4 separate regions of the Homo sapiens genome follow, and all the other regions are linked to region 1. The links come from fine-mapping of genetic effects on gene expression. A gene starts in region 1. Each other region holds a variant in brackets. All regions are shown on one strand. Distances are from middle to middle. Region 1 holds the start of NFXL1 (nuclear transcription factor, X-box binding like 1). Region 2 overlaps CNGA1 (cyclic nucleotide gated channel subunit alpha 1). Region 3 overlaps CORIN (corin, serine peptidase). Region 4 overlaps CNGA1 (cyclic nucleotide gated channel subunit alpha 1).

What was found.
Region 2: its variant is fine-mapped to the expression of NFXL1 in whole blood (INTERVAL, PIP above 0.99).
Region 3: its variant is fine-mapped to the expression of NFXL1 in whole blood (TOPMed, PIP above 0.99).
Region 4: its variant is fine-mapped to the expression of NFXL1 in whole blood (INTERVAL, PIP above 0.99).

The regions. Positions count from the first base shown.
Region 1 is chr4:47,910,869-47,919,218 of GRCh38, forward strand. It overlaps NFXL1 (nuclear transcription factor, X-box binding like 1), which reads right to left and starts at 3,715. Exons shown (of 23, transcript NM_001278624.2): 1 at 3,497-3,715; 2 at 3,101-3,337; 3 at 1-126. The coding sequence starts at 3,335. LOC101927157 (a long non-coding RNA gene) reads left to right here and starts at 3,359. Exons shown (of 3, transcript NR_125879.1): 1 at 3,359-3,836. RefSeq lists enhancers at 2,583-3,269, 3,270-3,955, 3,466-3,695.
Region 2 is chr4:47,994,416-48,002,765 of GRCh38, forward strand. All of the region lies in intron 2 of CNGA1 (cyclic nucleotide gated channel subunit alpha 1), which reads right to left. Among named protein-coding and RNA genes, the nearest start is that of CNGA1, 18 kb to the right of the region's middle. The variant C/T (reference allele first, on the strand shown) is at 4,052.
Region 3 is chr4:47,736,463-47,744,812 of GRCh38, forward strand. It overlaps CORIN (corin, serine peptidase), which reads right to left. Exons shown (of 22, transcript NM_006587.4): 5 at 7,940-8,121. Among named protein-coding and RNA genes, the nearest start is that of MIR8053, 88 kb to the left of the region's middle. The variant T/C (reference allele first, on the strand shown) is at 5,004.
Region 4 is chr4:47,945,563-47,950,562 of GRCh38, forward strand. It overlaps CNGA1 (cyclic nucleotide gated channel subunit alpha 1), which reads right to left. Exons shown (of 11, transcript NM_001379270.1): 6 at 4,271-4,333. All of the region lies in intron 1 of LOC101927157 (a long non-coding RNA gene), which reads left to right. Among named protein-coding and RNA genes, the nearest start is that of NFXL1, 33 kb to the left of the region's middle. The variant C/T (reference allele first, on the strand shown) is at 3,044.

The DNA.
Region 1 (8,350 bases):
CCTGTTTTCCTTCAAAATCTTCATCTCCTTCTTCAGATGAAGAGCTAAACTGTTCTTCAACAAGTTTTCTGGCTGCAGCTTGGTTAGCTTTCTTGATTTCTTCAAATTTTTTCTGAGACATTAGCTCTGTTTAAAAGAAAAAAGTTTCATTTCTGCAAAACAATCTCTCAAAAAGAAAAGCATAATGTGCTAATATATCATTTTACAACACACATTTGAAAGTCACCTTTGGAGCATTCTACCTTCCTGTAATCCACGAGAAAAGTATTTTCAAATTCCTTGACACACAACTAAAGAGAATACCACAACAAAAACTTTCACTTTTCTAAGTATCCTGCTAAAATGCAGCAAATTTTTATGATAACGGTGATTAACAAATCAAGAAAAAAAATATGAAAATACAATAAAACTATCAAAATACTGGTGATCAACTTCAAAATAAGGACTAACAAAAATTAAGATGTTTTAAAGTACATTGTGCACAGTAATTTTTAAGAAGTGAGGGAACATGTCCACAGTGAGCACATAAAGAATCAGGGAAGGTAGGTATTTCAAACTACCGTCTTCTGAACAACAGGTAGGATAGGACACGACGGCCCAGCCCAGTCCAGTCCAGCCCTACCAAAGAGTTTGTACCAACAGTACTCACTATGCACCCACTATATTTACAATCGGCTTCTTAGGTCAAGAACTTTTTGCCTTTATTATGGACTTCTTGTGGTCACACAAAAAAACATATTTTACATTAATCCACACAAAGTATTAACATGGAAAACATGTTTCTTCCAACTTCATTCCAAAAAGAATGTTAATTTTGGATTCGTTCTTCCACTATTCAGCACTACCTGTACTTCTCATTTTGTTACTTGATTAATCATGCAAAACAAAACCAGATTACTTCACTGCACATACTCCCAAAGAAACTTCAAACTTCTTGAGAGCAAGGACCACAGGGATTTTCTTCAAGCACTAAGTGTTAATAAGCTCTTACGGACAGCAAACATAGTTTAAGAAAGGAGCCACAAACCTGCAGAACTGATCTGAGTTCATGAATTCCCATCTTGAGAGGATTTTAAATTTACTGATTGACTATTTTAAAATTAACATTATACTTAAAACTGATAAGCCACTACCAAGATAAGCTCTCTTATCTTGGGTGGTATATTCGTACTTGATTATGTTCCCTCATGAAACATTTTCCTTTTCTTATTGCAGCCAGTTTGGTTAGGGGTTATTAACAAAACAAATTGAGTATTTCAAGTAAACCTCGACGAAAATGTGTATCATGCTTACCTAGCAAGCTTTGAGTACTGGGAAAAAAGAACTGGCTATGAGATATATAACTCAAAACTTGTCACAAAAGAGATGATAAATGTCATTAATATACGGGAAATTAGCACTTAAAAGATACATAAGAAAACAGGCTGAACTGGACAGAGATAATGAGAACATTCATAACCTGATAAATGTATTCACCTAACATCATCTCAAAGTAAAGAGAAGCTGACAAGACAACCTTCTCACGTATTATTTCTTACAGCCAAATCTCAACTGTCCAGGTAGAGAATGCTTGTTTTCTTTTTCTTTTCTTTCTTTTTTTTTTTTTTTTGAGACGGAGTCTTGCTCTGTCGCCCAGGCTGGAGTGCAGTGGGGCAATCTCGGCTACTGCAAGCTCCGCCTCCCGGGCTCACGCCATTCTCCTTCCTCAGCCTCCCGAGTAGCTGGGACTACAGGCGCCTGCCACCCCGCCCGGCTAATTTTTTGTATTTTTAGTAGAGACGGGGTTTCACCCTGTTAGCCAGGATGGTCTCCATCTCCTGACCTCATGATCTGCCCGCCTCGGCCTCCCAAAGTGCTGGGATTACAGGCTTGAGCCACCGCGCCCGGACAGAATGCTTGTTTTCCTTCTACCCACGAGATGGAGACCATCCTGGCTAACACGGTGAAACCCCGTCTCTACTAAAAAAAAAAAACCAAAGAACAAAAAACAAAACATTAGCCAGGCGTGGTGGCAGGCGCCTGTAGTCCCAGCTACTCGGGAGGCTGAGGCCGGAGAACGGCCTGAACCCAGGAGGCAGAGCTTGCAGTGAGCCGAGATTGCGCCACTGCACTCCAGCCTGGGCGACCAGCGAGACTCTGTCTCAAAAAAAAAAAAAAAAAAAAAAAGTTTACCAAACCTGTTCACACGTCTCCATATTGTATACCTTATCATCACGGCCATTAACTGCATGCTAAGAGAATACCACCTACCTTTCAAATTAGCCTAGGAGAAAAATCATTCAAGATACTCAATTCTGCTCCACACCCCCCAAAAAAATGTATCCTGAAATGCATTCCAAACACAAAAATAAAATGATTTCAGGGATTATTCCCTCGGCCCCATGCACAATTGTGTGTAAGTCCTCCCTGGCTCCACGAAAACATGGTCTTGGATGAAAAGTATTGATATATCGGAGGCAACACCAGATATGTCCACAGAAGGACATGGAATTTGTAAATAGGAACTACAGTCAAGGAAGGTATCAAAAGCTCAAGTGCTTACAAGGAATAAGACAAGTCAAGAAACAAAGGCAAAGGTAAAGATGACAAATGACACCTGGCTCCAGAAATGAGAGAGAATGTGAGATGGAATGCCCAAGTCCAATCTAAATGGGATTTCTGTGACTCAGCCGAGCTGACTGTTGCCATGCACAAAGATAACTAAAGCCACAAGGTTGTTAACCAGATTTTTAAAAACGACAAACAACCGCTGACAATCAATCCACATTTAAAACTCTGTGTTAACCAAACAACATTATAGACCAAATCAGAACACCGGGCCACAATTTACAACTGATGGTCTGGAGATTCAAGTAGGCAAGAGTGGAGGGAAGTAACAAAGGTAATACCACCTAAAATTAAGATGAAAGAGGTGCGATGGAAATCTACCTAGAGTGCCGAAAAGAGCAGCCACCCGAAAGGCTGGAGAAGTGGGCCCGATAACAAACTCCCGAACGAGGGGAAAAGCAGTGAAAGAAAGAAGGCGAGGGCGGAGGCGGTCCTGACTAGTAACTGCCTTAGGAGGCATCCAGGTGAGCACGCGGGCGGGAGCCATTCTCACCGCTGGCTGCGGTAGTCTGCAGGGCTTGGGATCCTGCGGGGCTGTGCCTGCTCCCTGCAGCCGCCGTGGTCGCGACTCCTCCGGGACTGGTGCCAGAAGGAACTGCGCCCACCGACCCCTTCTCTCGCCCTCCTCCGGCGCCGCGGAGATGGACTCCATTTCCTGAGGGGGCGGCAGTGGCCCGTCCCCGGGATCGGCCTCGGCCACCGGCCACCTGGCGCCAGGAAGCTTCCATCCCTGCAAAGGAGAAAAAAAAAAAAAAGAGTGGAAGGAGGTGAGCGCAGCGAGGACCGAGGCGAAGGAGGGTCAGTGCGGAAACCCGGTGTGAGGGGCCGAGTGAGGAAGGTTCCTGCAGGGCGGCGACCGGGTTTTAGGAGGTCGCGGCCCTGCCTTTACCGGAGGGCGAGTCCCCGCCAAGCCCGGGCTTTGGAGATGGACCGAAGAGGGGAGGGAGGACTAGGTACAGAAATAAACCGCGGAGCAAGAAGCACACAGTGCCGAAGACAGAAAGCCGGAGGAGAAGTCGAAACCGCCTCCTCAGCCTCTGCGGGAGCGTGGTAGGGGAAGAGTCACAGACTGACCCTGCGTCTCCCGCCGGGAACCAACTGCAGTGGTACACCCCACGGAAAGCTACGTCTCCTTACCGACTGCGCACGCCCCCAACAGACTACAACTCCCAGAAGCCCCCGCCCGCGTTCCGGCGACTGCGTGGCAGCACGGGCCGCTTCCTTATCCGGTAAAGTGCGGGGGTTGGGTGGGAGGGAAACCCCAAGCGCCTGCGCTGGCCCGAACAGGCCTTTGGGAACTACAACTCCCGGCGTGCTCTGGGGCTAGGGAGGGGTCGAAGGTCATAGGGGCGCGTGGTGGTGGAGGCGGGCGGGTCCGGAGGGTTTCGTGACCCCACAATTTGCTTCTGCTTCTGCAAGACTGCCCTAAACTCACCTGGGTATGAGGATTACATGGCTCTGTCCCTAATTGGCTCTCTGCCATCTTTTATTAGCCTTGCCTTTGAGCTTGCGGATGACAGGAGGTGTCAATGTAAAATAATCAAAAGCGCGAAGTTTGAGGATAGCCTACCTAGAAACACCGACTCCAAGGAAGGAGTCAGCGTTCCGAAGTAGAGATTTAAGATTTCACTTATATAGGCAGAAACTGAGAGGTTTTTTAGCAGGATTACAGCATTTTCTCATACAAGGTTAGAGAATAGTTACAACAATTTGATTATAGACAGTGTTTCTTTTTGGGAAGTGTACATTTAACATTTTTCATAAAGGATTTTCTGTCATCTGGTCTAAGCAAACCGGGGCAACAAAGCAGAAGTTAATCTATAAGGATCATTAAGAAGGCAGGAAGTTTTTGTCCTTAACTTCGTTTAATTCTCTCTAGCCATTGTATAGAACAAGAAAAATAAGAAAGCAAGTTAATCTATAATCTGAGAAACAGAAGTTGTAACCACGTGTAACTCAGATGACAGTCACATCTCTCTCCAGGCTTAGTGAGTTTTAGGCTCCAACAACCTTTAAACTATTTATTTTCATAGGGAAGTCTCACTAACAGGAAAGGCACTTACATTGAAAACGCTTTGAGGTTGGCCACTGTGAAGGAGGGAAATTCGGGGGAGAGTTGCAGGAAAGTGGCTTGAGTAGTAAAAGTACCCTTCTAAAATGCTAGAGCCAATGTAGAAAATAAATCTAAAGCCTGTTATTGTCATAGTCCTTTGTAGTGTGCAATGAGCTTTCCCTGGGACATGCTAATTTTTACCTTCACAGCATCTCCCTAAAGTAGATTTTGTTAAGGAAAATAGTTGAGGGCCAGGACCTAAATCTTATGATTTTGCTGAGTTTTCCAATAAGATACATGTGCATATATACTGACAGGTAGATTGCAAAAATTCATTCTGGGGTCTGTCTGGGATTGAGAAACATATTGATGGCTTATTGTACAGTCCTTCAACTTAGTTAATTCTTCTATTTTAACCATAAATTTCTATTATAATATTTAGATAGCATTTATTAGATGTCAGGCACTGTTTAAAGTGTTTTACGTTATGTATTAACTAATTTGGTACTCACAGTAACCGTGTTTATTATCCCCGTTTTACAACTGAGAACACTGAGGCACAGAGAGATTAAGCAATTTGCCCTTGATCATACAGCTAGGAAGTAGTGAAGCCAAGATTCAATCCTAAGTAGTCTAGTATTAGAAACCATGCTTTTAATGTCTTAAACATAGATATTGCAGAATTGCCTGTACATTAACCAAACTCAAAAATGACATCCCATGGCCAGGCATGGTGGCTCACGCCTGTAATCCTAGTACTTTGGGATGCCAAGGCGGGTGGATCACCTTAGGTCAGGAGTTTGAGGCAAGCCTGGCCAACATGGCGAAACCCTGTCTCTATTAAACATACAAAAATTAGCTGGGCATGGTGGTGGGTGCCTATAATCACAGCTACTAGGGAGGCTGAGGCAGGAGAATTGTTTGAACCCAGGGGGCGGAGGTTGTAATGAGCCAAGATCGCGCCACTTCACTCCAGCCTGGGCAAAAGAGCAAAACTCCGTCTCAGAAAAATGAAAAGAAGAAAAGAAATAACATCTCTGAGAATGATATAACTTCATTGGCTAGAAACTAACAGGTGCACAGCAACTCTCTTAATGCTGCACTTGTATAAGAACTGTAAGTTTAAAGCTGCAACCAGCTTTCAAAGTTTGAAAACCCTAAAGTGAGACTTTTCTTCAGTGGGGTTTTCACATACAGGAAAGGAGCTGTTATACTCTGAGAGAGAATATAGTAATTATCACTGAGTAATGTCCAAGAAGTATTGAGTGGCTACTAAAAAGAGAGATCCTTCTTAGAATTATGTTATATGCCAGAGAGCTGGACTAGCATATTATCTAAATTTCCATGTCAAACTTTATTGAGAAATTTTTTCTGTTCCCTCAAATATTCAATAGCTAATAACAGTGACCAGCAATCCTTGAGTGCTTTCTATGTGCCAGCATTCTTCTAGGTCCTTTTTTCTTTTACTCATCTAATCTTCACAATAACCATGAAGTAGGTATTGTTATCGTCAAAACAATTTTTTTTTATTATACTTTAAGTTCTAGGGTACGTGTGCACAATGTGCAAGTTTCTTACATAGGTATACATGTGCAATGTTGGTTGGCTGCACACATCAACTTGTCATTTACATTAGGTATTTCTCCTAAAGCTATCCCTCCACCAGCCCCCCACCCTGCAACAGGCCCTTGTGTGCGATGTTCCCCTCCATGTGTCCATGTGTTCTCAGTGTTCAACTCCCACTTATGAGTGAGAACATGTGGTGTTTGGTCTTCTGTCCTTGTGATATTTTGCTGAGAATGATGGTTTCCAGCTTCATCCATGTCCCTGCAAAGGACATGAACTCATCCTTTTTTATGGCTGCATAGTATTCCATGGTGTATATATGGCACATTTTCTTTATCCAGTCTATTATTGATGGACATTTGGGTTGGTTCTAAGTCTTTGCTATTGTGAATAGTGCCTCAGTAAACATGCCTGTGCATGTATCTTTATAGTAGCATGATTTATAATCCTTTGGGTATATACCCAGTAATGGGATTGCTGGGTCAAATGGTATTTCTAGTTCTAGATCCTTGAGGAATCGCCACACTGTCTTCCACAATGGTTGAAATCATTTACACTCCCAAGAACAGTGTGAAAGCATTCCTATTTCTCCACATCTTCTCCAGCATCTGTTGTTTCCTGACTTTTTAATGATTGCCATTCTAACTGGCGTGAGATGGTATCTCATTGTGGTTTTGATTTGCATTTCTCTGATAACCAGTGATGATGAGCATTTTTTCATATGTCTGCTGGCTGCATAAATGTCTTCTTTTGAGAAGCGTCTATCCATATATTTTGCCCACTTTTTGATGGGGTTGTTTTTTCTTGTACTTTTGTTTAAGTTCTTTGTAGATTCTGGATATTAGCCCTTTGTCAGATGGATAGATTGCAAAAATTTTCACCCATTCTGTAGGTTGCCTGTTCACTCTGATGATAGTTTATTTTGCTGTGCAGAAGCTCTTTAGTTTAATTAGATCCCATGTGTCTATTTTGGCCTTTGTTGCCATTGCTTTTGGTGTTTTAGTTATGAAGTCTTTGCCCGTGCCTGTGTCCTGAATTGCATTGTCTAGGTATTCTTTTAGGGTTTTTATGGTTTTAGGTCTTACATTTAAGTCTTTAATCCATCTTGAGTTAATCTTTGTGTAAGGTGTAAGGAAGGAATCCAGTTTCAATTTTCTATATATGGCTAGCCAGTTTTCCCAGCACCATTTATTAAATAGGGAATCCTTTCCCCATTTCTTGTTTTTGTCAGGTTTGTCAAAGATCAGATGGTTGTAGATGTGTGGTGTTGTTTCTGAGGCCTCTGTTCTGTTCTATTGGTCTATCTCTCTGTTTTGGTACCAATGCCATGCTGTTTTGATTACTGTAGCCTTGTAGTATAGTTTGAAGTCTGGTAGCCTGATGCCTCCAGCTTTGTTCTTTTTGCTTAGGATTGTCTTGGCTATGTGGGCTCTTTTTTGGTTCCATATGAACTTTAAAGTAGTTTTTTCCAATTCTGTGAGGAAAGTCAGTGGTAGCTTGATGGGGATAGCATTGAATCTATAAATTACCTTAGGCTGTATGGCCATTTTCACGATATTGAGTCTTCCTATCCATGAGCATAGAAGGTTCTTCCATTTGTTTGCGTCCTCTTTTATTTCGCTGAGCAGTGGTTTGTAGTTGTCCTTGAAGAGGTCCTTCACATCCCTTGTAAGTTGTATTCCTAGGTATTTTATTCTCTTTGTAGTAATTGTGAATGAGAATTCACTCATGATTTGGCTCTCTGTTTGTCTGTTCTTGGTGTATAGGAATGCTTTTGATTTTTGGACATTGACTTTGTATCCTGAAGTTGCTTATCAGCTTAAGGAAATTTTGGGCTGAGACAATGGGGTTTCGTAAATATACAATCATGCCATCTGCAAACAGAGACAATTTGACTTCCTCTTTTCCTAATTGAATACCCACCTTTATTTCTTTCTCTTGCCTGATTGCCCTAGCCAGAACTTCCAATACTATATTGAACAGGAGTGGTGAGAGAGGGCATCCTTTTCTTGTGCCAGTTTTCAAAGGGAATGCTTCCAGTTTTTGCCATTCAGTATGATATAGGCTGTGGGTTTGTCGTAAATAGCTCTTATTATTTTGATACGCGTTCCATCAATAACTAAT
Region 2 (8,350 bases), 84 kb after region 1:
TATCATTATATAATGTTCCTCTTTGTCTTTTTAACTGCTGTTGCTTTAAAGTTTGTTTTATCTGATGTAAGAATCCTGCCTGCTTTTGGTGTCATTTTGCATGAAACGTCTTTTTCCACCCCTTTATCTTAAGTTTATGTGAGTCCTTATGTGTTAGGTGAGTCTCCTGAAGGCAACAGACAGTTGGTTGGTGAATTCTTATCCATTCTGTAATTCTTTATCTTTTAAGTGGAGCATTTTGGCCATTTACATTCAATGTTAGTATTGAGATGTGAGGTGCCATTCCATTCATTGTACTACTTGTTGCCCATATACTTTGGTTTTTTGTTTTTTAAATTGTATTTTTGTTTTATAGGTTCTGTGAGATATATGCTTTAAAGAGGTTCTGTTTGATGTGTTCCCAGGATTTGTTTCAATATTTAGAGCTCTTTTTAGCAGTTCTTGTAGTGGTGACTTGGTAGTGGTGAATTCTTTCAGCTTTTGTTTATCTGAAAAAGACTGTATCTTTCCTTCATATATGAAGCTTGGCTTCACTGGATACACAATTGTTGGCTGATAATTGTTTTGTTTGAGGAGGCTGAAGATAGATAGAATCCCTTCTAGCTTGTACAGTTTCTGCTGAGAAATCTGCTATTAATCTGATAGGCTTTCCTTTATAGGCTACCTGGTGCTTTTGTCTCACAGCTCTTAAGATTCTTTCCTTTGTCTTAATTTTAGATAACCTGATGACAATGTGCCTAGGTGATGATCTTTTTGTGATGAATTTCCTAGGTGTTCTTTGTGCTTCTTGTATTTGGATGTCTAGGTCTCTAGCAAGGCCATGGAAATTTTCCTAGATTCTTCTCCCAAATATGTTTTCCAAACTTTTAGAATTCTTAGATTTGGTTGGTTAACATAATGCCAGACTTGTTGGAGGCTTTGTTCATATTTTCTTATTCTTTTTTGTCTTTGTTGGATTGGATTAATGCAAAGACCCTGTCTTCAAGCTCTAAATTTCTTTCTTCTACTTGTTTAATTATGTTGCTGAGATTTTCCAGAGCATTTTGCATTGCTCTAAGTGTGTCCATTGTTTCCTGAAGTTTTGATTGCTTTTTATTCTTGCTATCTATTTCATTATTTCTCCCTTCACTTCTTGTATCATTTTTTTTTATTTCCTTAAATTGGGCTTCATCTTTCTGTGGTGTCTCCCTGATTAGCTTAATAACTAACCCCCTGAATTCATTTTCAGGTAAATCAGGGGTTCTTCTCAGCTTGGATCCATTGCTGGTGAGCTAGTGTGATTTTTGGGGGGTGTTAAAGAACATTGTTTTTTTATATTACCAGAGTTGGTTTTCTGGTTCCTTCTCATTTGGGTTGGCTCTATCAAAGGAAAGGTCTAGGGCTGAAGGCTGTTGTTCAGATTCTTTTGCCCCACAGGGTGTTCCCTTGATGTAGTACTCTCACCCTTTTCCTATGGATGTAGCTTCCTGAGAGCCAAGCTGTAGTGATTATTATCTCTCTTCTGGATCTAGCCACCCAGCAAGTCTACCAGGCTCTGGGCTGGTACTAGGGGTTGTCTGCACAGAGTCCTGTTACATAAACCATCTGTGGGTCTCTCATCTGGGGATACCAGTACAGTATTTGGAGTGTTTCCTGGGTCCTGAAGGAGCAATCCACTTCCTTCAGAGAGGTCTCTGGGTACTCCCAGGTTTCCTGATTTATTCCTACAGTCATTCTGGTGCAAAAATTCATGACACGAGCCTCCACACACTGCTCTGTCTATCTGAGTCAGAGCTGCAATCTAGTCCTGCCTCCCATCCACCATGATCCCTCCTCTTAGGGAGTAAGTCCTCCAGCCCTCAGCATGATTGGGGTGGCCTCAGAGACTTGCAACTGATGTTGATAGCTCCTTGGAATATTGGAAATTTAGTGGACTTGAGATTTGCATCCTGGTTTAGATTTTGCATCCTGGTTTGCTAATTTAGATTTGCATCCTGGTTTGCTAATTTCTGACAGCACTGTAGCCTTGGGAAAATTATTTAACTGCCCTGAACCTTGTTGTTGCCATTTTTTATTAGCATAATGGGAATAGATTCTTCTAATCAAGGTATGGTAAATAGAAATGATTGACATAAAACTCTTCACACCAGGCCTGGCACAAATTGAGTCCTTAATTACAGTAAATATTAAGATTATTATTATTTTCCTGTGAGATAGTTCCTGGAGCTTATTATTAAATAATTCATTGTAATTGTATTAAGTTTCTGGTTAAATAACATAATCAAATACAAAGGGCTCAAAGAAATCCAGAGTAAGGAAAAAAAATTATTGGGGAAGAGAGTATGGTTGTACCTGAAAATTTTAAGATTTTAAGTCTTTTAGGGGCTGGGCACAGTGACTCATGCCTGTAATCCTAGCACTTTGGGAGGCCGAGGTGAGTGGATCACCTGAGGTCAGGAGTTTGAGATCAGCCTGGCCAACATGGTGAAACCTGCATCCCTACGAAAATTTAAAAAATTAGCTGGGCTTGGCACACATCTGTAGTCCCCCAGCTACTCAGGAGGCTGAGGCAGGAGAATCACTTGAACCCAGGAGGTGGAGGTTGCAGTGAGCCAAGATTGTGCCACTTGACTCCAGCCTGGGCAACAGAGTGAGATTCTGTCTGAAAAAAAACAAAAACTTAGGTAAATATGAAATCACGCTAACCTATATAATGTTGTGCCTTAAATATACCTGAAGACTTTTGCAGAGTCCATAGTGGAAATATTGTTGCTTATTACCCTTCCCCAAAACTGGCTTTCAATTTAGCTTTCTCAGACATGACAAATTATCTATGTGATATAAGCCTCCTAACTTTTGTTGCTGCTGCCACTTCTTCCACAGGCCTACCCCTAACATTAACAGAACTGGGGCAAGAAAACAAATGGATATCTATGTACTACATTACTAAATATTTAAAATCAAACTAATGAGCTGTTAAAATGAGTTTTTGTCCTCACCTTGAAAAACAAACCTTCATAACCAAAATATTAAAAATCTATAAAGCAATGATTTTAATATGATTAAAACCTAGCAAAATGTCAAAGACAACTGGATTTAATTATTATTGTACATGTCTGGTTAGGTCTGTTGATGGGTCAGGGGTACTCATATTAGTAATAAAATAGAGATATACATAAATGTAAGTTATTATGTATTATATATAATTTACTTTTCTGCCTTCTCAGAAAAATACTAAATATATTGTGATAATCAAGATTTTACATTATTTGGTGGTAGTGCTGTTTCACAACGCTTTGAGTCATTACAGATTGTAGTAATTTTTATAAATTCCTACTTGTACAAACTTTGCATTGTCTCAACACAATTTATAAAATGAGACAGCTTCACAAATAAATCATGAATTTTAAATATTATATTCAAACATTGCAGTGGGCTCCCACAAATCAACAATAGATGCTTCTTGACTTAAAATGTGATTATGTCCCAATAAACCTATCATAAATTGAAATAATCATAAGTTGAAAAGGCATTTAATACCCCAATACACCCACCATAAAGTAGAAAAATCATAAGATGAACCATCATAAGTAAAGGAACATCTGTATACTGTAGTCTAAGTTTTTGCTCATGAAAAAGTAGCTTGACTTCAAACTGGACAAAATGCACAAAACAACAACAGAAGTATGGCATTAGAGAAATGGGGGAAAAATGAGTTGAACCCTGTCCAAAGACCATTTTTAATCTGTGACATGAGAAAAATAAACCAAGCACAGCCCAGCAGTCTTGTTTAGCTAAGGAGTCAGAAATATGACCTTGGAGATTGAAGTAGCCAGAATTTTCAGAGCAAAGTACTAGAGAAGAGGAAGCAATGTAGAGAAAGAACCAGAAATCTGCAGAGAGGTCTTTTCCAGTCTTTGTGGAATGCTAATCTGGACATGCATAAATGAAAATTCCACAGACTGGACAAAGAATAACTTCCAAGGTATTAACAGTTAAATAATCCCAAAACTCACACAGACCTTGGAGATATTCAAGTTACTACCTGTAGACTGGAGAGATTCAGTGAAGA[C/T]CTCAGGCATTAATAATGCTTACATGGACTTGGCACAGTGGCTCATGCCTTTAATCCCAGCACTTTGGTAGGCTGAGATGGGCAGATCATTTGAGGTCAAGAGTTCGAGACCAGCCTGACCAACATGGTGAAAACCCGTCTCTACTAAAAATACAAAAAAAATTAGCTGGGCAAGGTGGCACATGCCTGCAGTCCCAGCTACTCAGGAGGCTGAGGCAAGAGAATCGCTTGAACCTCAGAGGTGGAAGTTGCAGTGAGCAGAGATCACACTGCTGCACTCCAGTTGGGCAACAGAGCGAGACTCCATCTCAAAAATAAATAAATAAATAAAAAATTTAAATGCTTACATGAAAAGCCACACTTCAATAGCAGGGCTAACCTAACTCTAGGTTAAAGGATACAGTACCCCCTTATTTGTGGTTTTACTTTCAACAACTTTATTTACTTGTGGTTGAGCATGGTCTTAAAATATTTAATGCAAAATTCCAAAAATAAACAATTCATAAGTTTGACATATTATCAGAAGGTCAATAGTAGCCTGATGCTATTTCACAATGCCAAGTCATTCACCTCCTTCGTCTCATCACATAGGCATTGTATCATCTCATATCATCACAAAAAAGGTGAATATAGTATAAGATGTTTTGAGAGAAAGAGAGAGAGACCACATTCACATAACTTTTCTTAAAGTATATTGTTATAATTGTTCAATTTTATTATCAGGTGTTAATCTCTTTCCATGCCTAATTTATAAATTGAATTTTATCATAGGCAAAAATACATAGTGTATATAAAATTTGGTACTGTCCATGGTTTCAGGCACCCCCTGGGGGTCTTGGAACATATTCCCTGCAGATAAAAGAGAGCTATGATACTTTCAATCTGCCATATAAGTCTTAAAAGAAGCTCATAAAGGATCAAACTAATTTGCAAATAATTCAAATTCCTTCCCCTCTTTTAAGGAGGCAATAAAATCCAAACACTTCACAATATGGACTAATAATGTCTGGCATTCAATCAGAAATTACTAGACACATAAAGAAGCAGGAAAATGTGACCCATAATCAGGAAAAAAATCAGTCAATAGCTGCATACCCAGAAGTGACAGAAATCATGGCATATGTCTGGGAACAGTAGCTCACACCTGTAATCACAGCACTTTGGGAGGCCGAGGCAGGTGGATCACCTGAGGTCAGGAGTTTGAAACCAGCCTGGCCAAAATGGTGAAATCCCGTCTCTACTAAAACTTCAAAAATTAGCCAGGTGTGGTGGCACTCGCCTGTAGTCCCGGCTACCCAGGAGGCTGAGGTAGGAGAATCACTTGAACCCAGGAGGCAGAGGTTGTAGTGAGCCAAGATCATGCTCCTGCACTCTCCAGCCTGGTGACAGAGAGAGATTTCATTTCAAAACTAATAATAATAATAATGGATTAGCAAACAAGGACATTAAAATATGTATTATAAATATGCTCAAGAATTCAAAATAAATCATTTATATAATCAACAAACAAATTTAAAACACAGGAAAAAATAACAGAACTTCTAGAAATTAAAATATCTGAAATTAAAAATTTATTAGATGTCTGTTCAGTAGAATAGAAAATGTAGATGATAAAATCAGTGAATGTGAAGACATAGCAATTGAAGCTGCCAAAATAAAGCAAAAAGAGATAAAACATTGGAATCTTAGTAACTCATGGAACCATATTAATTGGATCAACATGTGTAATTGGTACCCTAGAAGCAAGGAGGTAAAAACAAATATTTGAAGAAATAATGTCCAATAATTTTCCAAATTTGATGAAAAGTATAAAATTACATATTCAAGAATTTCAATGAACCCCAAGCAGAATAAAAACAAATAAAATCACTTCAAAGCAAATAAAAGCCCAATTACTAACAATAAGTGTTTTTTTTTTTTGAGACAGAGTTTCGCTCTTGTTGCCCAGGCTGGAGTGCAATGGCATGATCTCGGCTCACCGCAACCTCCGCCTCCCAGTTTCAAGCGATTCTCATGCCTCAGCCTCCCAAGTAGGTGGGATTACAGGCATGTGCCACCACCCCAGCTAATTTTGTATTTTTAGTAGATACGGGGCTTCTCCAGATTGGTTAGGCTGGTCTTGAACTCCCGACCTCAGGTGATCTGCCCACCTCAGCCTCCCAAAGTGCTGTGAACACAGGTGTGAGCCACCGTGCCCAGCAACAATAAGTGATTTTTTAAAAAAATTAAACAGCCAGAGGGAGAAAGTAGGCACATTACATACAGTGGGGGAAGCGGGGGGGTGGGAAGGATAATCACAGACTTGTAAATGAGAAACAATGTAAGCTTAGAATATAACAAAGTAGTATTTTTAATGTGCTGAAAGTAAAGAAATACTGTTAATTTATACTTTTGTACCTAGGGAAAATAGCTTTTGAAAATAAAGGCAAAATACATCTTTTTCAAACAAACAAAAACTGGGAGAACTTATTGCCAGCAAATCTACATTATAGGAAATATCAAAGGTACCAATCTTTAGCCTTGAATCTAACCACATCAATTTTTATAAAATATGTACTCAGACTAAAAGGCTAATTAAAAGCAAAGATTTTCAGATTGGTTACAAAAGTAAAATGCAACTAAATGTCATTTATGAGAAATAAGCTTTAAATAAAAAGACACAGATAGGTTAGATGTAAAGGGAAAAAAAAGGCATGTCATAATAATAAATGTTAATAGGCTGGGCACGGTGGCTCAGGCCTGTAATCCCAGCACTTTGAAAGGCCAAAGCAGGTGGATCTCTTGAGGTCAGGAGTTCGAGACCAGCCTGTTCACCAACATGTTGAAACCCCATCTCTACTAAACATACAAAAATTAGCCAGGTGTGGTGGCATGCACCTGTAATCCCAGCTACTTGGGAGGCTGAGGTAAGAGAATCACTTGAATCTGGGAGGTGGAGGTTGCAGTGAGCCAAAATTGCACCACTGCACTCCAGCCTGGGTGACAGAGCAAGACTCTGTTTAAAAAAATGCTAATAACACAGCTGATTTAGCTATATTAATATCAGACAAAGTAAATTCCAAATCAGAAAGTATTACCAGAATAAACAGGGACATTTAATAATGATAAAATTGTCTATTAATTAAGGAGACATAATAATCCTACTTGTGTTTGTATCTAATGACCAAGTTAAACAAATTTAAAAATTGGCAATAAACTACATTTAGAGCAAGCAACTTAACCCAATTGACATTTCTAAAACACTACACCCAGCAACTGCAGAATACACATTCTTTTCTATTTAACTTGGAACATCCACCAAGACAGATCATATGCTGGGCCATAAACCAAATCTCAACACATTTCAAAGAACTATTATTGTTCAGAATATGCTCTGTGTCCAAAAGAGGATTAAACTGATAACCAATAACAGAAGGATATCTGGAAAAGCTGCAGTTATCTGGAAATCAAGGAACACATTCCTTCATAACCCATGGGTCAAAGAAGAAATTGCAAAGAAAACTTTAAAATATTTTGAACTAAATGATAATAAACATTATTAATAAACACAATATATCAAAATTTGTGGGATGGAGCTAAAGCAGTATTTGGAGGCAAATGTTAGCTTTAAACATTTGTAGTGAAAGAGAATAAAGGTTTAAAATCAAAGTCTAAACTTTCACCTTAGAAACTGGAAAAAGGATAGCAAATTAAACTCCAAGTAGAAGGAAGGAGGTAATAAAAATAAGAGTAGATATCAATTAAAATTTAAAAATAGGTAAGGAAAATCAATAAAGGTAAGAGCTAGTTCTTATAAAGATTCATAAAATTGAAAACCTCCTAACTAGACTGATTGAGAAAAAGATTACCAAGTATAAGCTAGGTACAGTACTAGGCTGGACAGCAACATTTTTGCAAAAAGCCTCAAGCCCCACTCTGTAAAGACAGACCACAACACTGTAGTAGAGAAAGTTTAATAGATACAAGACTAGTCATGCCACATGGGAAATGGAGTTTGTACTCAAATGATCTCCTCCAAAGGTCTTAGGTCAGGGGTTTTTCAAAGGCAGTTTGGGGGAAGGGAGGGGGTGGCCAGGTAATAGGTGCTTGCTGTTGATTGACTGGGGTGGAGATGAAATAGGCGTCAAAGCTGCCCTTCTGTGGGCTGAATTGCTTCTGGGTGGGACCATAGGAGCTGGGTTGGCTGGTCCAGGTGGAGCCGTGGGTGTCAGACATGCAAAAAAAAAAAAAAAACAAAAACAAAAAACCCTGAAAAGATATCTCAAAAGGCCAGTGTTAGGTTCTACAATATTGATGTTA
Region 3 (8,350 bases), 170 kb before region 1:
ACTATAGAACAAAGAGTCTACATTCTTTTTTAAAGTTTTATTTTAAGTTCAAAAGTACATATGCAAGTTTGTTATATAGGTAAACTTGTGTCATGGGGGTTTGTTGTACAGATCACTCACTTATTAAGCCTAGTACCCATTAATTATTTTTCCTGATCCTTTTTCTCCTCCTACCCTCCACCTTCTGGTAGACCCCAGTATCAGTCGTTCCCCTCTATGTGTCTATGTATTCTTATCATTTAGCTAAGTGAGAACATGCCCTAAGAGTCTACAATCTGTGTATGCCTTGTCCTTCATGGAACTTGCCAGTTCTTGGCATGGTGCTACACATGTGACCACTGCAAAGACAAGATAAGCCAGCAGAACTTTTGGCAATTCCACAAAGGCGAAGAGACAAAAATTAGAGTTTGGTGTTGCTGAAGCAGCCAGATACTAAGGGGCCAGGTGAGCAGTGAAAGGGGAGACATAGAGAAGCAGATCTATCACTTGGGAGGGTTGCCTTGCAAGGCATTTGCCACAGAGGGCAGGAGCCTAAAGAACTAAGCAGAAAACTTCAGAAAAGTAGAATGGAAATTACAGAAATTATACTGCTCTGAGCAGAAAATAAAATAAAATTTGGAACTACTCAAGGAGGAAGGGAATATAGTAAGCCTACCAGTTTCTCAGTTGAGACTACTGGAGAACCACACTCTCAGAATGGAGAAAAACCAGAGGTAGACGGAGCCTTATAACAATGAGGCAAAATCAGCTTAGTCTCTGATTAAATTAAGGCTATCTGGCCCCATATGTGCCTAGTGATCATATATGTGGCACATACGTGTGATCATATATGTGTCTGGCCCATATCACATATACGATCTGGCCATATATGTCTACCCTTCAAGAATCTATTGCTACATTTGCTGGCCCACTGCCTTTAGCTGTCAGATCCTTCGGGTTTTGCCTCAGCTGTGGAACACTGAAGAGATCTGCCTCACTCAGTGGCACACTCTTCCCAGGAAGGACCACATCCAATGACTGATTGAGGTGGAGACACATAGACTCAACTATTTTGGATCAACATGAGATAACTCTTGTAGGCTTAATACATTCCAGAACTCCCCAAGGATTTAGCTGAGGCTTTGGTGGGCCTGGATCATATTTCAACTCCTTCTGCCCAATTCTGCTTTCTCTCCCTCCCTTAACACAAAGGCTGAAGCTTAATAAATACTCTGTACACCAAACTCCATCTCAGTTACTATTTGCAGAAAACTCAACTTTTAGCACCTAGTGTCAGACATGGTCTAAGAAAGCAGGTGATAAGATATGGTTATTGATCTAGATAACCTCACAACTACATCAGCTGTGAAAACTAGCAGCCAAGCAGCCACTAGAAGGGGCAAAACATGCTTGGAGCTCTCCACAATGCCCCATTACCAAAGAATTGTCATTATTTTTCTTGTCTGTTAGCTCCCTGGAAACTCAGAGCAAATGTGATTATTTGACCTGAATAAGAGCTTACTCAGTGCAAAAGCCTTTTCCCCGGGGTGTTTCTAAAAAAAAAAATTAATAATCGATTAACACTGTAACTGTCTGAGGTGGGGATATCACTTGGGGCAAACAAGAAGCTAACCAGAAAAATTAAAAGAAAAATGTGGGGAATTCCTGTAGGAAAATTTGAAAAGCTCTAATACATTGCTGAGAATCTAGAAGATCCCATGAATGTGCAGGACTATGCATATACCTAAGAAGGACCCAGAAAGGCCCAAATATCTCACCTGTGGCAGACATTGAGACCCTGTACAAGCAGAAATTTAAGGATAAGGCAGAGCTGTAAACTCTGCTATAGTATTGACTGCTATAGCATTGACTCTGCTATAGTGTCGACTCTGCTACAGTACTGACTATGCACCCTAACATGCACAGAATCCCTTGGCAAAGACTAGGATATATACCTGTTAAAGGCATTTAAGGAAATTCTGTCCAACCATTAGTTGACCACTAGGCTGCTATCTGGGCAAAAACTTCAGTGGCCAGACATGACAAAGAACAAACTTAACATAATTTGTTTCAGGGAACTCACTGAACAAATAAATAACAATAATTAAAGCAACAAGAAACAGAAACAGCAACTAATGTTGGGGGGAAGAATTCAACTTGCAGAGTTGAACATTATATTATTTTAAATGTCCAACTTTCAACAAAAAATTACAAGATGTCCAAAGAGACTGGAACATATGCCCATATAGAGGGGGAAAAAACAGTCAACAAAAACTGTTCCTGAGGAAGCTCAGACATTGAATTTACTGGACAGACTTTTAAATCAGTTATTTTAACTCATTCAAAGAACTAAGGAACACATTTCTAGAGAACTAAAGGGAAGTATAAGAGCAATGGCTCAAAAAATACAAAATATTAATAAAGATATATAGATTATTTTAAAATATTAGAAATTATGCAGTAAAATATATAATAACTGAAATTAAAAATTTACTAGAAAGACTTAACAGCAGACTTGATCAGGCAGAAGAGAAAATCCGCAAACTTTAAGATAAGTAAGCTGAGATTATCTAGTCTAAGGAACAGAAAGAAAAAAAAGAAGAAAAATTAAAAGGTCCTTAATGACTTGGAGGATGTACCAACATACTCATAATGGGAGTCCCAGAAAGAGATAAAAGAATGAGTCAGAAAGAATGTTTGAAGATATAATAGCTGAAAACTTCTCAAATTTGGAGAAAAACATACATCTGCATAACAAAGAAGTACAAAAATTCAAATAAACTCTAAAGGATCTACACTTAGACACATTGTAATTAATCTATCAAAAATCAGACACAGAAAATTTTGAAAACACTGGGAGATAAGCAACTCATCAGATAAAATGGAGCTTCAGAAAGGTTAACATCTGACTTCTCATCCAAACTGAGGAGTCCAAAAGGAAGTGGGATAACATATTCAAAGTGCTGAAAATAAAAGACTGTCAAACAGAAATTCTATGTACAGCAAAATATCCTTTCAAAATGAAAGACAAATTATGATATTCCCAGATAAACAAAAGTGGAGAGAATTTGCTATTAACAGAACCACCCTGTAAGAAGTACTAAAGGAAGTCCTTTGGGATAAAATAAAAGGACAGTATACAGCAACTTGAATCCATATGAAGAAATAAAAGGTATTGGTAGAGGTAATTAAATAGGTAAAAGTAAGATAAAAGAAATGTATTTTTTCTATAAATCTTTTATTATCCTATCTGATTCTTAAAAACAACTGCATAAATAATTTATAATCATAATCAATAAACCTATGTTGAGATTATATTATATAAAGATGTAATTTGTATACATAATGGTACAAAGAAGGAAAAAGAAACAAAGCTATACAGAAGCAAAGTGTAGATATTGTTGAAATTCGGTTAGGATTCATCTGAACTAGACTGTTATAACTTAAGACGTTAATTTTAAGTTCCAGCACAACCAATAAGAATAACTAAAAAAAATAGCCAAGCAACAAGAAATTTAAAATGGCACACCCCAATATATCTAACACAAAAAAAGTCAGTAATGAAGGATCAAGAAATACAAAAGTCATAGAGAAAACAAATTTCAAAACAGCATATGCAAATACTTATAATTACATTAAGTGTAAATGAATTAAACACTACAATCAAAAGGCAGAGATTTGTCTCATAGATAAAAATATGAGATTCAATTATATACTGTGTGTAAAAGGCATACTTTATATTCAGAAACACAAATAGGTTGTAAGCTCAAAAATGGAAATTTTTAGGTGCCTATGTGTTTACACATATTTTCTATTGCTGGGTGGAGTGTACTACAGATGTCTATTAGATCTCATTGGTTTATCGTGCTTTGTAAGTCTTGTATTTCCCTTTTAATCTTCTACCTAGTTCTACTCATTATTGACAGTGGAATATTATGGTTGAATTGTCTATTTTTCCTTCAGTTCTGTCAGATTTAAGTATTTCTGGCTCTGTGTTATGTTTTCCTGACGAATTGACCCTTTATCATTAAAAAATCCCTCCTCTTTTCTGATAACAATTTTGTTTTAAAATCTATTTGATCAAATATTAGTATAGCCATTCCAGCTCTTTTAGCAAAGATTGAATGGTATATTTACATATGTAATCTTTATCAAAATTATAGCTGAATTTTTTTCAGAAATTGACAAGTTAATCCTAAAATTTATACAGAAAGGCAAGGGACCCAGGATAGCTAAAGTAATCCTTAAAAAGTTAAAGTATGCACACTTCATAATTTCAAAATGTATTGCAAACTGTGGTAATCAAGAAAGATAGATAGATCAATAAAAAATAATTGAAAGTCCAGAAATAAACCCATACATCTATGGCCAATTGTTTTTTAACAAGGGGCTCCAAGTCCATTCAGTGGGAAAGAATAGCTCTTCAACAATACATACTAGGACAACTGAATTTCCATACGCAAATGAAAGAAGTTGGACTCCTACTTCACAACATACAGAAAAGTTAATTTAAAATGGATCAATGACTTAAATATAAGAGCTAAATCTATTAAAATCTTAAAAGAAAACAAAGGAATAAATAATTAGTCACCTTGTATTAGCCAATTTTTAAAATACATACACTAGAAGCATACACAACAAAAGAAAAGACAGATAAACTGGACTTCCTCAAAGTTAAAAACTGTTGTTAAAATGAAAACAGCCCCCGAAGAATGTAGGAAGATATTTGAAGATTATATAGCTTAAAAGGCACACTTGCATCCAGAATATATAAAGAACCTGACAATTCAACAATTTAAAGAGGCAACCTAATTTTAAAATGGGCAAAGTATTTGAATAGATATTTCTCAATATAAGGCATACAAATGGCTAACACTAACAAGCACATGACATGTTGCTCAACATAATTAGTCATTAGCAAACTGCAAATCAAAACCACAATGGGATACCACTTCACATCAACTAGGACAGCTATAAACAAAAGAGACAAGTGTGGTGAAAATGTGGAAACACTGGAGCCCTCA[T/C]ACATTGTTTGTAGGAATGGCATTTCCTCAAAATGTTAAACATAGAGTTAATACTAGTCACAGCAATTCTACTCCTAGGTATATAGCTGAGAGAATTAAAACAGTATGTCCACACAAAAACACAAAATCTTATACGCAAATATTATACAGACAGCATTATTCATAACAGTCCAAAAGTGAAAACAGTCCAAATATTCCTCAATTAATGTATGGATTTTTAATGTGGTATATTCCTACAATGGAGTATCAATTGACAATAAAAATGAATGAAGTACTAATAATACATGCTACAGCATATATGAACCCTGAAAATATTTTGCTATGTGAAAGAAGTCAGTCACAAGAGTCCCATACTGTATGATTTAATTCATATTAAATGTCCAAAATAGTCATGTTTATAGAAACAGAAAGTTAATTAGTGTTTACCAGGGGCTGAGGAGAGGGATAGCAATTTACTGCTAATGCGTGTAGGTTTCTTTCTAGGGTGATAAAAACATTCTGAAATTATTATAGATGATTATGATGGTTGTACAATTCTGTGTGTATACTAAACCACTTAATAATATACTTTAAAGAGATGAATTTTATAGTATGTGAATGATCTCAGTAAAGCTGGCATTTCTAAAAGGTAACTAGCATAATATGAAAAAATAATACATCATCTTAATAGATATAGAAAAAAATAATAAAATTCAAAACCCATTCAGGATTTTTTAAAAAGTCTTAGCAAACTACAAATAGAAAGAGCTTCCTTAATCTGACCAAGAGTATCCTAAAAACCCTTCACCAAACATCAGAATTAAAGGTGAAATATTGAAAACCTTCTTCCTGACATAGAAGAAACAGAAAGCAGAATGACTGAAAAGGAGGAAATAAATTGTCATTATTTTAGATGACATGATTGTGTACTTAGAAAATTCAAATGAATTTACAGACAAATTATAAAAATTGTTGAGTGATTTATCAAATTTCTTGGATACATAAAAACAGAAAATAAAGGAAATGTTTTAAAAATATATAATTTACAATAACATCAAAAATACCAGATACCACAAATAAATCTAAAGATGTGCAAGATCTCTATGGTTAAACCTATAACACATAATTGAGAGAAATTTTAAAATGCCTCATTGAAAATACCTACTTAAATATTACCATAGTATATAATTGTTATGGTTGGAAGACTGACTGTTGTAAAGAAATTTTCCTGAATTTGATCTATATATTTAATGCAGTCCCAATTTAAAAACAAAACAAAAACAAAAACAGCATTTGTGGAAATTACATAGTGATTTTAAAATTTACATTAAACGCAAAGGGCCAAAAATAGTCAATCTTTAAGAAGAACAAAGATAGAGGACATATAATATTCAATATAAAGATGCTATAAAACTATAGTAATCCAGATAGTGTGGTATTGTCTTAATTCTATTCTGTCAATTAGAGGGTTCAAAAATAGATATACATGTAATCATTCACTTGATTGATAGCAGCAGTGATATTACAGTGCAGAGGGAAAAATTGTCTTCTAAATAATTAAATGGTGGTGGGTCAATTGAATATACACATAGAAAAAAATTAATTCCTATCTTTTACCTTTCACCATGCACAAAAAATAATTCCAGAATTATAGTAGATGTAAAACTGAATGTCAAAACAATAAAGATTCTAGAAGAAACATAGGAGAAAAACTTCTATGTTTGGGGGTGAGCAAAGATTTCTTAAGACACAGAAAAAAAAAACACAAAAGAAAAGATTGATATTATGGACCCATTAAAATTAAGACCTTCTATTCCATCATAGATGCTAATAAGAGTAGAAAGGCAAGCCATAGGGCATGAGATCTTTGCAATACATATATCCAACAGATGACTTGTATCCAGAATTCATACAAAACTATAAACTGAAGACAAAAAGACAGACCATCAAAAAATAGGCAAAATATTTGGACAGACATTTCACAATACTCCCATCAAAATTGTTAAAATGAAAAAGACTGACAATGCTAAAGATTGGGAAGGATTTGGAGCAACTACAACTTTTATAAGGAGCTGGTAAGAGCATAAATTGGTACAACCACTTTAGAAAACTTTTTTGTTGAATAAATATAACCATATTCAATTAAAGACAGGCACAAGAGGCTGGGAACGGTGACTCATGTCTGTAATCCAAACACTTTGGGAGGCCAAGGTGGGTGGATCACGACATAAGGAGTTCAAGACCAGCCTGGCCAACATGGCGAAACCATGTCTCTACTAAAAATACAAAAGTTAGCCAGGCATGATGGCGTGCACCTATAATCCCAGCTACTCGGGAGGCTGAGGCAGGAGAATTGCTCGAACCCGAAAGGCAGAGGTTGCAGTGAGCTGAGATCATGCCACTGCACTCCAGCCTGGGTGGCAGAGCAAGTCTCTGTCTCCAGAAAAAAAAAAAAAGACATGCACAAGAATAGTAATAGCATCACTGTAATAGCTGAAAATTGGATACAATGCAAATGTCCATCAACAGTGAAATGGAAAAATATATTTTGGTTCAATCATATATTAGAATGCTGTATAACAATGAGAATGAATGAACCACAATATGAAGATGTAATTAATTTCTTGAACATAATGCTGAGCAAAAGAAGACAGGTTTTAAAAAGTTACATATTGTATGATTCCATTTATATGAAGTTCAGAAGTAAGCAAAACTAAGGTGATAGAAGTAAGGATAGAGGTTTCTTTTGGAAGGGTGAGATATGACAGGCAGCGGGCTTGAAGGCATTTCTGGGGATGTTGTTAATATTCTATTCCTTGATCTGGGTTCTGGTTACATGGATCTTGTCACTTGGTTAAAATTTATCAGACTGTACACTTATTATTTATATCCATTCCTGTATAAATGGCATACTCAAATAAAATCTTCTAAAAATGAAATGAAACACAGACACCTACATTGCTTTCCGTTTTCCTGCTGAGGTGAGAAGCAAATTCTGCTGACATTGCTGCTTTCAGTTTGGTTTCTAAACTGGGAGCATCTGAGGAAATCCGGCCAGGAGTAATTCACCATCCCCAGGACTGATTCACAGCCTTCTTTTGCAGCCTCACAGAAGGACCTACAGGGCAGGAGTCCATGACTAAAAAAAAAAAAAGAGAAAGGTGAAAATTAGTGTCTTTACAGAATAGGTTTTGAAATAATAGTGAAATTAAAGTTAGCCCCTGTGTTGTGATATTATCTTAATTTATACTTACTATAGTCAGCAACTTAAATTTTTACATTCAGTCCTATGACAGTGATTTTAGCTATTCTATGGTCTTGATTCTAGAAGAAATAGCTAGTTCCACATCATCTAACTATTTCTTGTA
Region 4 (5,000 bases), 33 kb after region 1:
GTAATAATAGATTCCTGGATGAGATATGACTTATGGTGTTTCCCACTGGGTCCACAGACCCACTACTATGTGATCATTTCTCCAGTTCCTAAATGTAAAAGTGAAATGTATGTAATTCTTGAATATAAAAGTAGAATGTATATAAGTTCCTGAATATAAAAGAGAAATGTATATAATTGTATAAAATCATGCATGGAGGAGTGGTGGTCTCTCTTAATTTCCCCATGTAATTTATCATCTGACTCCCACAAAAACCAAATAGATCCTAGTGGATGGCAGAGAGACTACTGCAAAATCAACCAAGTAGTAGCCCCAATTGCAGCTGACATGTCCTATGTGGAAAATAACACAGTGACCCACTCTGTGATCATTTCTCCAGTTCCTAAATGTATAAGTGTAATGTACATAATTCCTGAATACAAAAGGGAAATGTATATAGTTGGTCATCGGCACAACTCCCACCCCTACCCCACTAGTTCCTTGGCTTGTGAGGAAAGAGGTGTAAGACCGAGGAGAAGCCCTTAAGCTGCTTCCCACCTTCTGGCCAAAAGCAACATTGCATCCTGGGGAGAAAAAGAAATGCCATCCTTAAAGACCTAATGCATGCAGGGGTGGTGATCGCTCTTCATTTCCCCACATAATTCATCATCAGACCCCTGCAAAAACCAAATGGATCCTAATGGATAGCAATAGACAATTGCAAAATCAACCAAGTAGTAGCCCCAATTGCAGCTGCTGTGTCATATGTGGAAAACAATGCATTCACTTGATATACACTGCATACCTAAGGTTCTGGGTCAGTCATTGTGAATGTCATTTTTCATTACTATCAGGAAAGAGGATCAGACATAGCTCATACTCACAGGGGATAACAAACTGTACACACCTACACTCTTTTCCAAGGCTATATTAACTTTCTTTCCTACTGTCATGACAGCCTTGAGGGACCTGGATCACGTGGACATTTCTCAGAGCACCACATTAGTCCACTATATCTGCATCAATGGCATTCTGTTAGTCAGGCCCTGAAATAGGATTACCTAACCATGGGACATAAAAAGAATGCCCATTATGAGATGGATTCTGTCAGAAACAACAATTCATAATGTATCAATCCGTCATATGATGAAGTAAGATATCTGGGATTGAGCATGAATCAGAGCAAATAAGTAAGCTGCCCAGGCAGGTGGCTCAGTACCCTTCGTCTTTTTCTTTCTTTCTTTCTTTCTTTCTTTCTTTTTTTGAGGAGTCTTGCTCTGTCACCCAGGCAGGAGTGCGGTGGCACAATCTCGGCTCACTGCAACCTCTGCCTCCCAGTTCAAGTGATTCCCCTGCCTCAGCCTCCCAAGTAGCTGGGACTAAAGGCGTGCACCACCACACCTGGTTAATTTTTGTATTTTTAGTAGAAATGAGGTTTCACCATGTAGGTTGGCCAGGCTGGTCTCGATTCCTGACCTTAGGTGGTCTGCCTGCCTCGGCCTCCCAAAGTGCTGGGATTACAGGTGTGAGCCACCATGCCCGGCCTTCAGTACCCTTCTTTATGTCATTTCCACGTTGGAAATTTCCATTTATTTTCCACTATGTCATTTTCCACTCAGCACCTATTTATCAGCCCCCACCTGTGGTCATATGTGGGGTTCTTTAGAAGGAGCTGATACAGCATGTTGCATAGATGGGTCAGTTTAGAATGTGGATGCAAGCCAAAATGGTCTGTGTCTGCACCACAGCCTCACTTAGAGGTGGTCTTGAAAGTGTGAGGTTAATTTCCCCAATGGCACAGCTTCAAGCAGTATACAGTCATCTAGTTTGTATGGAAAAAGAAATAGCCCAGACTGGGTCCGATGGCTCAAGCCTGTAATCCCAGCACTTTAGGACGCTGAGGTGGGAGGATCACGTGAGGCCAAGGAGTTAGAGACCAGCCTGGCCAACATGGCGAAACCCCACTAAAAATACAAAAATTAGCCAGGCGTGGTGGCTCACGCCTGTAATCCCAGCTACTTGGGAGGCTGAGGCAGGAGGATCATTTGATCCCGGGAGATGGAGGCTGCAGTGAGCCAAGATTGCACCACTGCGCTCCAGCACAGGCAACTGAGTGAGTACCTGTCTCAAAAAAGAAAAGAAAAAAAAAGGGAAAAAGAAATAGCCCAAATTAAGAATATACATGTGTAAAAGGACTCGTGGGCAGTCACAAATGCCTTGACTGGTTGGTCAGGGACCTGGATGGAAAACGATGGAAAGATCAGGGAAAATATTTCAGAAGAGGCAGACTGAATGGACATATTATGAGTGTGAGCACAAAGTTTGAAAATCTTTGTTTTTATTTGTCTGTTTTTTGCTCGTAGTGAACATGCCTGTTACAGAGACCAATGCTATGACTCCAAAACAGTGCTTTCTCCTGAGGAAAGTAATCAGTCACTTGATGGCAAGTTAACTAAATTGGACTCCTGACACCATGGAAGGGGCATCAAATATATTGATAAGAACTGACATATATTATGACTATTCATTTGCTTTTTTGCCACAGGGCTTTGACCAGTGCCATTATTTAGGGGCATATGAAGCATGATCACTATATATGAAATATTGCTTAACATCACTTTGGACCAAGGACCCACTTTAAGGCAAAAAAAAAAAAATGTGGCATTGGAACCTGAGTTTGGGATCCAGTGGTCCTATCATAAGCTGCACACCTTTGTCAGCTACTGACATGATAGTTAAGGAGGGACTTTTTGAAACCACAGCTGAAGTGCTATCATAGAGTTTATACTCTAGGAAGAAAAGGTGCCATCCTCTAGGATACTGTATATATGCTAAAACAATGATCATTGTATGGTTCTCTATGCCTGTATAGAATGCATTGGTCTGGGAACTATGGGGTCTAAGTAGGGGTGACAAATGTAGGAAAGGTATGTTTCCCATTCTTGCAACTTAAGGATCTATGGATCTAGAGGTCCTGGCTTCCAGAGGGGTGATGCATCTGCCAGGGAATGCCAGAGTTCCATTAAACATTAAGCTACGGCTACTCCCCAGCCACTTTGGTCCC[C/T]TCATGCCCAACAGGCAAGGAAGAGAGTCACCACACTGGCAAAAGTTATTGACCGTGATCATCAGAAGTAGGCAGTGCTGTATACAATGCAGGGAGGGGAGATGTATTTGCACCTAGGTGGTCTTTTGGTATTTTCCAGCCCAGTTTTGGTGGTAAATGGGCAAGTACTGTAGCCATGACTCAAGAAGGGCATGGTGACCCAGGGCTCAAGTTCTTCAGGGATGAGTGTCTGTACTGTTCCACCAGCTAAGTCATCTAGACCAGCAGATGTGCTGGCTAAGGGTGAGAGGACCCTAGAATGAGTAGAAGCGGAGAGGGTGAAGAATTTCATTTGAGGCCTCAAAACCACCTGCAACTGCCAGAGACCTTAGTTTAATCCCATTAACTTTACTCTTATAAGCTTTCTCAGGAAAAAATAACCAGGATCCTGGAGTAGGTATTCCCACATGGGGTGAATTTTCTATATAAACAAAATGGATCTGGGCAGCACACGGTTGGGCCATACAGTGGCTATGCAGGTGGTGCACAAAATTCAGGCACTCATTCCCCACTTGCCAAGAGTGTTGGTTGCTGTCAGCTCAGTTTTTCCTCTCCCTTGGCTGGCCTTGGCTGAAGGAAACCACCATGCTCCATCCAGATGGTTATGCTCCATCTTCTAGGGCCAACTTTTTTCCAATAACTGTGCATGGGAACAAAGGCCCAAGTCTATTACCTAAATAGGGACAACTCTAAAAGGTCATCCCTGCTCCAGGGATCCCCAGAGAATCACATTGTACATCAGCTCTATTCTCTGAAGTTCGACTTCTCCCTCTGCCCAATACTGACCCCCAACTCCCTTCCAGATATTGTTCCCAAGACCATTCCCAACAAACTTCTGCATACAAGCCTCCATCTCAGAAACTGTCTCCTGAGGAAATTCACCTAAGACACATTGGCTCAAACTGGAAAGGAGTAATATTTCCTGACAAAAATTCACTTATTTTTGTCAGTCACTCTATTCACAGAGAAAGTCAACTGCATGAACACTATAGACATGATTTTTTCTACATGTATTCAAATAAATGAATGAACACTACTTTTCAACAAAATGATAAGACTATCATTGCCATTGTATTAGATCATTTGATTAATAAATGTTTCCTCTATAACAGATTCAGATATATTCCTACATTTTTACTGGTTTTCTTTAAAACCAAAACTTTGGTTTTCTATTGTAAATATACTTACTGGTCCTTATTGCTGCTGTTGTTCACATTAAAAAGTGCAATGGCACCAGGCAGGTACTGCTCCCTGGGAAATGAAAAACATGCAGTGAAATCACAGTAGTCACCATCTGTATAATGTCCATGGTAGGCAAATGGTCTGAAAAAACAAATTCTTCTCCATTTCTACTCATTACTAAAGACTATGTAGATGATAGATATTTCAAAAACATATTATGAAGCATAAAGCATAAAAGTATATCCTGAGCCTCCATGAAGCATGACTTGCCAAATGCCAGTGTCTTGAACAAACATAGTGATATGGTTTGGCTGTGTCCCCACCCAAATCTCATCTTGAATTATAGCTCCCATAATCCCCACATGCCACGGGAGGGACCCAGTGGGAAGTAATTGAATCATAGGGGTGGGTGTTGCCCATGCCATTCTCGTGCTAGTAAATAAGTCTCACAAGATCTGATGGTTTTATAAAGGGCAGTTCCCCTGCACATGCTCTCTTGCCTGCCACCATGTAAGACATGACTTTGCTCCTCCTTTGCCTTCTGCCATGATTGTGAGGCCTCCCCAGCCATGTGGAACTGTGAGTCCAGTAAGCCTCTTTTTCTTTATAAATTAACCAGTCTCGGGTATTTCTTCATAACATTATGAAAATGGACATGGTTAGTAAATGCATATCAGTCAATGTTCATACCAAGAATTAGCTTAAGTGAACCAACCTCAATGCCAGTAACTCCCAA